Homo sapiens: one gene and its partners. The protein of the gene in region 1 purifies or fractionates together with the protein of each later gene. This does not show direct contact. Each region holds a gene or a part of one and is shown in the gene's direction. Other genes may lie near its edges.

Region 1 (3,814 bases):
ACCAGCCGTCCAGAAGAAGAGAGAGTTGGGCCGAGGAGGACTCCAGGGCTCAGCCATGAGGAGATCTGGGCGGTGGTCTCCTCTTCCTCGCGGCCTCTGCCCGTCCACTGCCCGGCCCTGACATCACGAACGTGGCAGGCCAGCCTCTTCCATCACGAACAGGCCAGTCGAGAAGACAAGACATTCAGAGGTGGGGTCAGTGTTGGGGCCCGGTCACGCCTCTGCCTTCTCAGGGTGCAAAGTTGTCTTCTTGATGAGCTGAGGACAGAGGTTCTGGTGTCCCCTCAGTGCCCTGGCGGGAGGTACTCATGGCGACCACCCTTGCCTTGGAGCCTCAGCACGTTTTCAGGAAAAAGCCGCGCTCTCCCAGGAATACAACGGGGGCTTCCCAAGCCCAGCTCTCCCTGGCACTCAGATGGACGGCGGCCTTCACTGGAGGTCTGAACCTCAACGGTGTGGCCCTGAGACTCTGGGTGGGAAGGAAGGAGCTGGGGCCAGGGACGTCCTGCTTTGACAAGAATCCATTTATTGTGTTTATCAATACAAATGTGGAGTTTCCATTCCTTTTCCTTTTCTTCTCACTAATGATGTTTGGAGCTCATTGGCCCACGGTCACCTGTACACACCAGCGCCCACACACACCAGCGCCCACACACACCAGCACCCGCACACACCAGCGCCCACACACACCAGCGCCCGCACAAACCAGCGCCCGCACACACCAGCACCTGCACACACGTGGGGAACCATCGCTTTGATCATTAGTGCACCCAGCACAACTCCCCACCGTGTCCCCGGCTCTCCCCACCGAGGGGTCCTGGTGCCTGTTGTCCCCTCTGTGCTGTGTGTGCCGGTGGTGTTCTGCCACCCCCCAACCCTGGCCCCTGCCTGCCCTCTGCCACTGTCCTGCGCCCAGGCATCCTGAGAGGTGCAGCTGCTGCCGCCCTTCCTGATACGCCGGCACTGTGACTCCAGGCAGCGGCTGAGGGCACCCGGCACAGGGACGAGCTGCTCAGGCGCCAGTGGCACAGGGCCATGAGGATCCAGCCTCTGCTCTCTGGGGCTGTTTTTTTTTGTGGTTTTTTTGCCATTTTTAAAACTTTTTGTGCTCTCAGCTAAAGGGATCCCCACATCTTCCATAGTGAACAGCTCTACGTTTGCTGTGGAGAGAAAAGAGACCGCCACTGCTGTCTTGGGCACACATGTGTGGCCTCGAGGGTCTGGGAAGGGTCTGGATCTGAGCGGAGGGAGGGAGGGAGGGAGCCAGTGTCAGTCCAGGGTCCGGGGGAGGTGAGGCCTAAGCCTCCTAAATCTTCTCAACCCACCGGGCCGGGCCTTAGGGCGGCTGGAGTGCGAATTTCCTAAACCCACCGGGCCAGGCCTTAAGGCGGCTGGAGTGCGAATTTCCTAAGATGAACAACGGCCCGTCCGGAGGTCCAGACCCCTTACTAGAGGAAGGTCCCAGAGCATCCCAGACTCCATGGCAGGAAACTGATGGAGCTCACGGCTGAGGACAGAATTCCACAGCCCAGGCCCGTGGGAACTGCCTCTCCTGACCTGCAGCGCCCAAAGGTCTGGGTGGTCCCAGGGCCAGGCAGGATCCTGGGGTCCCTTCCCCACCTAACACTGTGCCAAAGAGCTCGAAGGCGTTGCTCATCTCTGCTGAGCGGCCTCAGGGGTTCCAGGCCCTGCGGGAGATGTCCCCACCCCTCGTGCTGATGCACCCGGCTGCTGTCCACGCAAGCCAGGACCCCCTTCCTGGCCTTCCAGCTGCTGCAGGCAGGAAGGGATTTGCTGGCCCTGGACAAGGAAGGAAGTGTCCTCAGTTTCCAGCCCCTAAAGGGAGCCAGGGTCCCTCCTGGCAGAACCTGTCCAGGAACGGCAGCTGTGCTGCTTCCTGAGGTCGATAACAGATGCCACAGGAGGTGTGTGGGGCAGGGTGCCCACCCAGGCTGCCTTCCTCCCGCCCTCCTCGTCCTGCCCTGCTGCTGCTCCATCTTCCCCAGCAGCCCTGGCTCTGGCATCTGTGCCCATGGGGTTTGCATAGCCCTCTCCACATTATAGAAGAAGGAGCAGGCACCCTGAGGAGATAGGGGTTGTCAGGTGGAGGAGTTGGGTCCTGTCTCCCCCAGCCTGGTTCTCACGGGGCCCACACCGAGGCTGGCTGCTGAGCTACCCTGCATGGGAGTGCTGCATGGCGGGTGCCCAGCCTGAGGTTGTTTATTTGCATTCCTGGCGCCCTCCACACACCCAGCTATTTGCAGCTCTGACCCTTGTCCTGGCTTGGCCATGCTGGATTCCCAGCCCAGGCTTCCCTCTCAATTCCCTTCCCAGTGAGAAGCTCGGCAAGGGCGGGTCCCGGAAAGCACAGCTGTGATCTGGGAGGTGCTGAGCACCCACCTGCGACCCATGGCGGGGGAGGGCCGAGTAACGACAGCATGGCGGTGCCCCCGAGAGGGAGGGGCATAGACCCCGCCCGGACAAACCCTGACACGTTCCCTCCTTCAGGGGCGCGATGTATGGAACCCAGTCCTGAGAGGCCTGCATGCAGTCAGCAGGAGCCGACCCTGGGAATGGACGCGATGGCCTCGGAACACAGGGATGTCCTCGTGCTGCTGCCCAGCCGGGAGCAACTGCGGCTGGCCGTGGGGGTGAGCAGGGCCCTGGGTGGCCGTGGGGGTAAACAGAGCTGTGGGGGTGAGCAGGGCTCCGGGTGGCCGTGGGGGTGAGCAGGGCCCTGGGTGGCCGTGGGGGTGAGCAGGGCCCTGGATGGCCTTGGGAGTAAACAGAGCCATGGGGGTGAGGAGGGCCCTGGGTGGCCATAGGGGTGAGCAGGGCTGTGGGGGTGAGCAGAGCCATGGGGGTGAGCAGGGCCCTGGGTGGCCGTGGGGGTGAGCAAGGCTGTGGGGGTGAGCAGGGCCGTGAGGGTGAGCAGAGCCGTGGGGGTGAGCAGGGCTGTGAGGGTGAGCAGAGCCGTGGGGGTGAGCAGGGCCGTGGGGGTGAGCAGGGGTATGGGGTGAGCAGAGCCTCAGGACACAGCCTGTGTATGGAAAGTCCCTGGACCGCCTCACTCTGCTTAGGCCAGGTGTCTGTGAGGTGTCAAGGGCCAGCCCTTTCACTGGGCCTGTGAAGGAAACATCCCTGATAGACGTTGCTGTGAGAAATAAGTTTATGGTTCAGCACATCCTTCCCGGGAGGGAGCGCTGAGGGAAGAGCGCCAGGAAGCCGGTTTCCAAGGAGCAGCTCCTGTCTTGTGTTCAGACGTCACCATCTCTATGCTTCTCTATTTCCTTTTCTTTTCCCTTTCCCCCATTTTGTCTACCTGTTTTAGTTGAGTTCATGGCGACAGGAGTTGAGATGGTACTTTCATTTTAATGATTAATGTGGATAATGAAAATGTGGCAATTAAAATGAGAGTGGTTTGTTGAAGAACGATGACTTTCTGCATAGCTAATGTATCATTGCTACCTGGAATGGAGTATGACTTGCTAGTAATATCCTGGTTCAAGTCCCCTGGGAATCTGGGAGTCTCTTGTCTGCTTCGGGATAGAGTTCTGTGTTTACGTAAACGCCCACATCTATGTTTGTGGCAAAATCTTCCCCAAGACTCTGTGTCCCCACCCAGCAACGAGAAGCTGGAGTTGAGCTAATGGGGGATGTCCTGTAGTTTCCTGGGGTCCCCAGCAGTGCCTCGGGCTGGGGGAGGGGTCATAAGAGGACCTGTTGTGGGGAAGATGCTGGGGCTTTGGCCCCCTACCCCATAAGAGCTGGAACTTTTAGGTTTCTTGCACGGAACTTCACGGTAAGATTTTAA
Region 2 (3,814 bases), on another chromosome or scaffold:
CGTGGGACTGGGAAGCGTGGGCTCGGCGGGGGGGGGGGGGACACTGCCACCCTTGGCTCTTGGGCAAAGCTCACGACCTGTTTCTGAGAGTCTGAGGCCCACTTGACTTGGGTGAGAGCCAGGAACGCACTCCCCAGCCCAGAGCTGTGAAGCTGGGGTCTCTTCCTGTGCCCCAGGATACTCTCCCCACTCTGGATCCCAGCAGCCTCATCCTCCAGGAAGCCCTCTGGACTTCCCCTCGACTGGGCCAGGTCCCCACACAATAGACAGCCATGAGATACAGGGGAAAAAAGGACTGAGAGATGTTGCCAGCCCCCAAGGGGTCGGAGGGGCAGCAAAAGGCATCCTTACTGTGAAGTTGGGGTAAAGCCTTGGCCGAGCTGTGGGGACCCCCTCCCTGGAGCAGAGGGAGATACGGACGCTGGAGAGGCTTGGCCAGGGCAAGACAGGCCTGGAGGCTGAGTGGATGCAGTAGGAGCAGAGCTGGGGGAGGAGTTCAGAGGCCTCTGCAGAGCTGGGGCTGTGGGTGTTGGGGGCAGGGACAGGCAAGGGGGTTCGCCGTGCTAGGAGGGAAGCGGGGCCAAGCCGGCCTCAGACCAGGGCCTGCTGGGGTTCTGAGGGGATCCTAAGGACCAAGGCTGGCAGAGGCCGGGGCACCCCAGGAGCCTTCGACGTCACACCCTGCCTATTTGGGATGGAAAAAACGTTCTAAGGGACGTCAGGGAACAGCGGCGGAAGTGCGTGTGGCTTTGCTATGGCAACCAGGCCTGTTTCTATAGAATTTAGCGGCCTGGGCTTGGGCCAGGGGGCTGAGGCAGGGGCTGGGCTGGGGCGGGCAGTCTGTGGGTGCCCTGGGCAGGCTCTGTGATGCCAGGGGCCACGCTCGGAGCTCTGGCCGCAGTCCAGCCAGCCGGCCACACACAGCCCTGTGGCAGGCGGGGCGGAGGCTTCTGGAGCCGTCCCAGGCTCCTCCCAGGGCAGTTGCAGGCCTCACAGGCACACCCACCCATGGCTTGCGCCCCACACATGTTCAGGGGACCCCCACACCCCACCTGCTCCGGGTTGCTGGAGGAGCTGCTTTAAGGCCGGGCCTGGCCCGAGCAGGGAGCTGCATCTGGAAGCCCCCATCTCCCCCACTCAGCAGGGCCCCCCAGGCTGCTGCCAAGTGGGCGGGGACCCCTGACCCAGACCCCCTCCAGGTGTGTCTCCAGGGAAAGGGGTGGGTGTCCGCATCCCACATGCCCCCAGGGCGATGCCCCAGCAGAGCCCTCTAAGCCCAGCTTGTGGGAGCTAGGGAGGGGCTCCTGAGGGATTTGCCGAAGAGGGGCTGGGGTGGAGGCAGCGAGGCGCTGAGGAAGACTTCCACTTCCTTATTGCACAGTGGGTGCCCCCAGGGCCCCGGAATCCCTCCTACGTGAATGTGGGGTGGACAAAGACCCTGGGCCTGAATCCCAGATTCAGGCGAGGTCAGGGAGGGGCTGCCCTGCGTTGGCCCCAGCTGGAGGGGACGGTGGGGGGCCAATCCTGCCCTTCCCCTCTGCACGGTGCTGACCCACGCACCTCGCCCCTGAAGGTCAGCACTGGCCTTCCCCAGGGTGGATGCTGCGCTTCCTCAATGACTTTTCTCTTTCAAAGATCGAATACTCCTGGAGCATCCAGCATGGGCAGTGTGGACGGGCAGGTGGTGTGGACGGGCAGGTGGTGTGGACAGGCAGGCGGTGTGGATGGGCGGGCGGTGTGGACGGGCGGGAGGTGTGGACCGGCGGGCGGTGTGGGTGGGCGGGAGGTGCTCGGGCAGGCGGTGTGGATGGGCGGGCGGTGTGGGTGGGCGGGCGGTGCTCGGGCAGGCGTGGTGGGGACATGGAAGGGAGGGGTAGGGGGGCTGATGGGGAAAGCCCTTTCTCAGCCACTAGCTGCCCCCATGGCTTTTCCCGGTTTGGGAAGAGTCTCTCATTCTATGGAACACACCCCCACTTCCCCAGCACTGGGAACTGGAGGGCAGAGAGGCCAGAGAATTGAAGGGGAATTCTCACTCCGGTTGACAACTTCCTGCCCGGCCACCCCCCAGCCTCGATGACTGTGGGGTGGGGAAAGAGGCACTCTCCCTCTGGGGGGCCAGGGCATGCCCCCAGAAAAGCCTCCCAGCCATCAGGGGATGCTGAGCTATTGTGCTTTCCAGTTGTGGCCCAAGGGGTCCTCTCCCTACTGGGGAAACTTACTGCAAAACCCAGTCCCTGGGGACTGGGCTGAGGGGAGGCCTCGGGCATCTTGCTCAATTCCGAGGTGCGGGGATGGATCCTGCCTTAGGGCGGGACACAAACGTTCCCTGGCCTCCAGCCCCAGGGTCCCGCCCGCCTCCATGTCCCTGGCTGGGGCTGAACACTGAACCCGAGTGAACTGGGAAGCAGCCTCCTGTGCAGAGTATCCCCCTCCTTCCCTCCCTCCTTCCGTCCCCCTCCCTCCCTCCGTCCCCCTGCTTCCCTCTGCCCCCTCCCTCCCTCCGTCCCCTCCCTCCTTCCGTCCCCCTCAGCTGGCGCTCGATGGGGTCTTGCGCACACCCCACAGATCCTGTGGTGTTGTCCCCGTGGCCCGGCTGCTGTTGGCCAGCTGGGACTTTCTGGCTGATTTGCACATTGCCCTGCGTGCCTTTCTGTTCACCTCACTTCAGAGTGAGGGGGAAGCCAGACAGTTGCTCTCCCAGACTGTGAGCAACAGGCACTGAGGCCAGCCCGACCCATCCCAGGGGAGTGCCTGCTGGGGTCCTGGCCACCTGGGCCCCCGGGCAGGCATCACTGGCAGGGCTTGCAGCTGGCCCTGGGGCCCCGGAAGCTTGCAGTACAGGGAGCTGATGGGTTTGTAAAATGCAGGTCAGTGTCTCCTAGTGGCTGCCCGGTGATCCCCTCCCTGCTCCCAGAGGGCAGGAGCCAACCTGGGGCTCCCAAAAGGGCTGAACCTCCTGTGCCGAGTCATGGCGCCCTGCACTTCAGGCTATCAGGGCCTTACCCCAGCTGGGACATCCTCACCCCAAGCACAATGGCAAAAGGCAAGCCCTGGCCAGCTCTCCCCGACCTTCCTGCCGGGAGCTGCTGGAGACGGGATAGACATGTGCCAGGGCAGAGCAGCCTTGTAGACACACCACGACCACACCTCTGTCCCAGGGCTGACTCCTCTGAGCCTGGCTGCAGGTGTGTGGCACTGCCCACACTCAGGAGCCCCTGCCTCTTCCACAAGAGAAGTCCCCCGAGAGCCTAGTCTGGGTCACACAGGGCCAAGCCCCTCGAGTCGCAGTGGGGCCTGGGGAAGGCCGAGGGAGGCTTTGGCCAGGCCCCATCTCCCGAGACCATGGGACGCAAAGATCAGGTGGGGCCAGGTAGCTCGTGGCGCTGCCAACTGCAGGGGCTGAGATGTCGGGTTGAGCCCGAGTCCTGAAGGCTGAGTGGCTCCAGGGTGGGTGGCCTTCCAGGTGGCATTGGAAGGGACAGGTGGGCCTGGGCAGCCTAGAGAATGGGAGAGGAGACAGCAGGAGTGGTAGACAGCCCAGGAGCTCAGGTGCAGGGAACCAAGGGCTTGAGAGCCAGCCCCTCCCTGCACACCTGTAGGCCGGGCTGGGGGGCCCCAGGCCAGACTGTGGGCACGGTGGTGGGTGATGAGTGGCATCTTGAAGGCGCATGCAGGGCGGGCATGGCCAAAGGGACCCAGTCAGGAGGGACTGATGGAGGAGGTACTGGAGCCAGCTGGGCTCAGTGATGCCCCCTGAGCTGTGCTCCTGCTGGGTGGGGGCAGAGACCAGCTCCGCCACTTTGGCCTGGGACTG
Region 3 (3,600 bases), about 130 Mb from region 1:
GGGCCCAGAGCCCTCACCTCTGAGACCTCCTGGTTGGTGGAGAGACAGAGGCTCTAAGTATTCCTAGGATGGGGAGGGGTGGGGAGAAACAAGGCCATGTGCTTTAGTCCAGAGAGACCCAAAGTGGAGTGACCTCCATTCCTGGCTGCTACACCTCGGCTGAGTTATGGAACCATCTATATGGATGTCAGGGGAGGAAGGAGGTGGATTCCTGGGTGTGGCTGTGGCACAAGTTCTGAGTGTGGCCACTGGAGGCAAGTTTTCAACTTGTCCCTCTTCATCCTCACGGTCTGGGGAAGGGAAAAAGGCAATTGGGCCCAGGCTGACAGCTTGATCAGAGCCTGGTGCCCAGCAGAGGCCTGACATCACAGGCCTTCAATAAATGCTTATGGAATGAAGGCATATTTTTCCCTTCTAACTTTTGGGGATGATACAGGAGGCCTGACTCCTGGGAGCAAGTGAAACTGTCCCAGGGGCTGCCCCTTCTCAGTGAGGTTCCAGTGACCCATCGCTGTGGCTCAGTTGGTGTGGGGTAATAGGAGAATACCCGGCTAAAAATCAGAGGCTTGGTTGGCTTCTGCCTCCAGTTGCCAGGAACCTGCCGTGTGCCCTTGATGGGTGGTGTTCCTTCTCTGGGCTTTGGTCATCTCTTTTTGGCACAGTGGACTGGATGAGGTTTTTTAAACTGCAGTTTGCAACCCATTTGGGACATTAAAAAAAACCAGTTCAGTGGGTTACAATCAGCATTAAAGCAACAACAAGAACACAACTGAAATAGAATAGAAAATATCAGCATGCATCAAAGGTCATAAAAGTAAGTATTGTTTGGTGATCTATTGTTTTGCTTATATATAGACGAAGGTGTGGACTGGTCTGCTGTAAAACTTGTTACTGTTTGCCATGGTGAAAAAACAAAACAAAACTGTAAAACACGGTACTTAGCGATCCTGGAGGTGTCCTTCCCTCCCACATCGTTCCTGGGGGTCTTCGTAAAACAAACAAACAAACAAACAAACAAAACAACAACAACAACAAAAAAACCACTGCCTGGGGCTCTTCTCCTCCCAGGGTCAGCAGCTGTCTCTTTGCTTTTAGCTGTCTCCACCCCTCCCCTAGCCTCTCTTCTTCCTGCTTCAGTCACCGAGTCCCCTCCTCCCTCTCTCCCAGGGACAAACGCCCCCCCACAACTCAGGAAGTGGGGTTGGGGGGTCCGAAGGGAGCAAAAGTGATCGGATGGCGGTGGCAATGGGCACCCTATCTTAGGCGTTCAAATAAAGGACTAGGAAGCAAACACCCAAGCACCGGGGAACAGAACAGAAAGTAAGCGAGCCCGGGACGCGAATTTGAGGGCAGGACTTCGGGAGCCAGAGCCTGGCGGCGCTGCCGCAGCGGGTCACTCCCAGGGGGCCGGCACCCAGACTTGGCATCGTTAGCGCTTGGGTGCTCTGTCAACTAGCGAAGGTAATTTTCATCCCTGCTTTTTTTTTTTTTTTGAAAGGAAAGACGGAAGGAGCCAAGAGTTTTGGAGCCAACTCCTGGAGAGGGAGCGGCTGAACTGATTCGGAAGTTGGATCTCTTTGTACACAGGAATGCGGAGAGAAAAAAAACAAAACCCACCCCATTGCTTCATTTCCCCTCCAAGCCTGAGCACTTTCTATTGTGCAATGAAAAGGCTTTTCACGTTGAGAAAAATGAATCCCGAATTTGCTCTGCAAAGGGATGAGCGCGCCTCTGGGCGCCAGCCTGCTCTCAGCTGGGCGCGGAGACCGCGCGGTGGCCGCAGGGCGGCCGCGGCCAGGGCGCTCCAGGGCGCGCCCTCCGCGAGCGGCTCCGGGGTGACGCCCGCCGGAGAGCTGGACTCCCCCTTCCGCGGGCGCCTGCACTGGCTCTTAGCCAGCCGAGGGCCCGGGTGCAGATAGTCCGGGAACCCCGAGGGCGGAGAGCTCCCCACTACGCCTGGGCCTCCCAGGGATGGCAGCTCCGAGAGCCCCCTAGACCCGGTGCCTTGCAGGACGCCTCTGGAGATCAGGAGGGCTGGCGGCGCATTCGGCGTCCGGGAGGCCGGGCCCCGGACGCGCGAGGAGCGCGGGGCGCGGGAAGGCAGGCGGGTGCACATGGGTGCCGGCGGGCGAGCTGCGGGGGGAGGGGGGGCGGGGTGTGGCCTCCCCGCCTCCCGGGCGGGATTTGCATGTGTGTGGTGGCCCCAGACTTCCTGCTCCTTCTACGCTGCAGGTACGCGCGGGCCGGGCGGGGCGGGCGGGCGGCGGGCGCGCCAAGACGTGGGCACCTCCTCACCCGGACCCCGGGCCCCGCCGAGCCGCCTCCTGGCTCCCGTGGCCGCCAGCCCGCCCCGGCCGCACCGAGCGTCGGGATCCGAGGTGGGAGCGTACCCCTCCCCGCTCCCCGGACGCCTCAGTCCTCCGCACTGAGCTTGGCCACGCGCCCCTAGGCGCCCCCCACGCCCTGGGCCCCGGAGGGCCGCAGCCATGAGTGAAATGTCCAGCTTTCTTCACATCGGGGACATCGTCTCCCTGTACGCCGAGGGCTCCGTCAATGGCTTCATCAGCACTTTGGGGTGAGTGAGCCGAGCTCGAGAGGGGCGCGGGTAAAGAGGGGGCGCCGTGGGCCCTGGTGCCAGCTGCGTGCGTCCAGCCGCCGCCCCCCGATAGAGGCCTGGACGTCCCCCTAGTCTCAAGGAGCGGGAACGGCTCGCCTCCTTCTTTTACAGAAAGGAAGTGAAGTGTTTGCTCAGGTAGGACTCGGGCTCCCTACTGGAGTTGGCAGGAGGAGCCTCCCTCGGCGGCGCAGCCTCTACCCTCCCGCGCACGCCTTTGGAGGGGGCGGAGGGACGGAGGCTTCCTTTGCAGGTGGTCCCGGGGGCGGGCAGGTGGGTGGCTGGAGGCTGAGTTGGGGAAGGGCAGCCGGGCCGAGACGTGCCCGGCTCTGAGGGTAGGGCGGAGCTGTCGGGAGTGGGCAGGCTCAGCTTGGAGCCCGTAATCCTCTATTACCGATCCCGTGGTGCCTTTGAGGGGTCGCACCTTCTCCTCACAGCTCTCTCCCTGTTCTTCCCAGCTTCAGTAGGAGTGTCTTCTCAGCCCTCCCCTTCCAGGCTTCAAGGTCCTGGCCAGCTGCCCCTTCTCCCCGCCTCTCCCATTCAATTTCCTGCGCCGGTCATCTGGCGCCCTTGGGTCCTTGGTTCTAGCTTCTCTCCAGCACTTCACAAACATTAATTAATTCTGGCCGCCACCTCCCAGGGTCTGGGCTGGATGAACAGGGAATCAGTTCACGTCCCTGGAGAGGGCCAGGCCTGTAGCAGGGAGAGGGCAGGAGAGAAATTAGGTAGAGAGGATGGGTTTATCTTCAGAGGAGCAGCTGGATGTGATTCGCTGGATGGGAGCGTAGGTGGTTTCTCCAGCCAGACCCCAGGGCAGGGTCGGCTATCTTTGTCCCGTTTACAGTCTGGGGGCCTGGGTTAAATTGTCTCATCCTCCCAACCACACATGGCTGTCCTCTAGGGTACACCCACCCTCCTCTGCTGATCCACTGAGTGGGACCAGCCAGCCGCGTGGTGCCTTCTTTCTGATGGCCTTGGAGGACAAC

Evidence for each region.
Region 2: the proteins of FRMD1 (region 1) and TRAF7 purify together in Homo sapiens (co-immunoprecipitation; 3 studies listed by BioGRID and IntAct, with this or other methods). This does not show direct contact.
Region 3: the proteins of FRMD1 (region 1) and ITPR3 purify together in Homo sapiens (co-immunoprecipitation; 3 studies listed by BioGRID and IntAct, with this or other methods). This does not show direct contact.

The regions. Positions count from the first base shown.
Region 1 is NC_000006.12:168,077,719-168,081,532, reverse strand, and holds the start of FRMD1 (FERM domain-containing protein 1), read left to right. Parts: upstream 1-2,320; 5' UTR 2,321-2,438; coding exon 2,439-2,651; intron 2,652-3,814.
Region 2 is NC_000016.10:2,158,742-2,162,555, forward strand, and holds part of TRAF7 (E3 ubiquitin-protein ligase TRAF7), read left to right. Parts: intron 1-3,814. UniProt on the Homo sapiens protein: E3 ubiquitin and SUMO-protein ligase that plays a role in different biological processes such as innate immunity, inflammation or apoptosis. Potentiates MAP3K3-mediated activation of JUN/AP1 and DDIT3 transcriptional regulators.
Region 3 is NC_000006.12:33,619,117-33,622,716, forward strand, and holds the start of ITPR3 (inositol 1,4,5-trisphosphate-gated calcium channel ITPR3), read left to right. Parts: upstream 1-2,205; 5' UTR 2,206-2,486; coding exon 2,487-2,575; intron 2,576-2,672; exon of another isoform or gene 2,673-2,752; intron 2,753-3,600.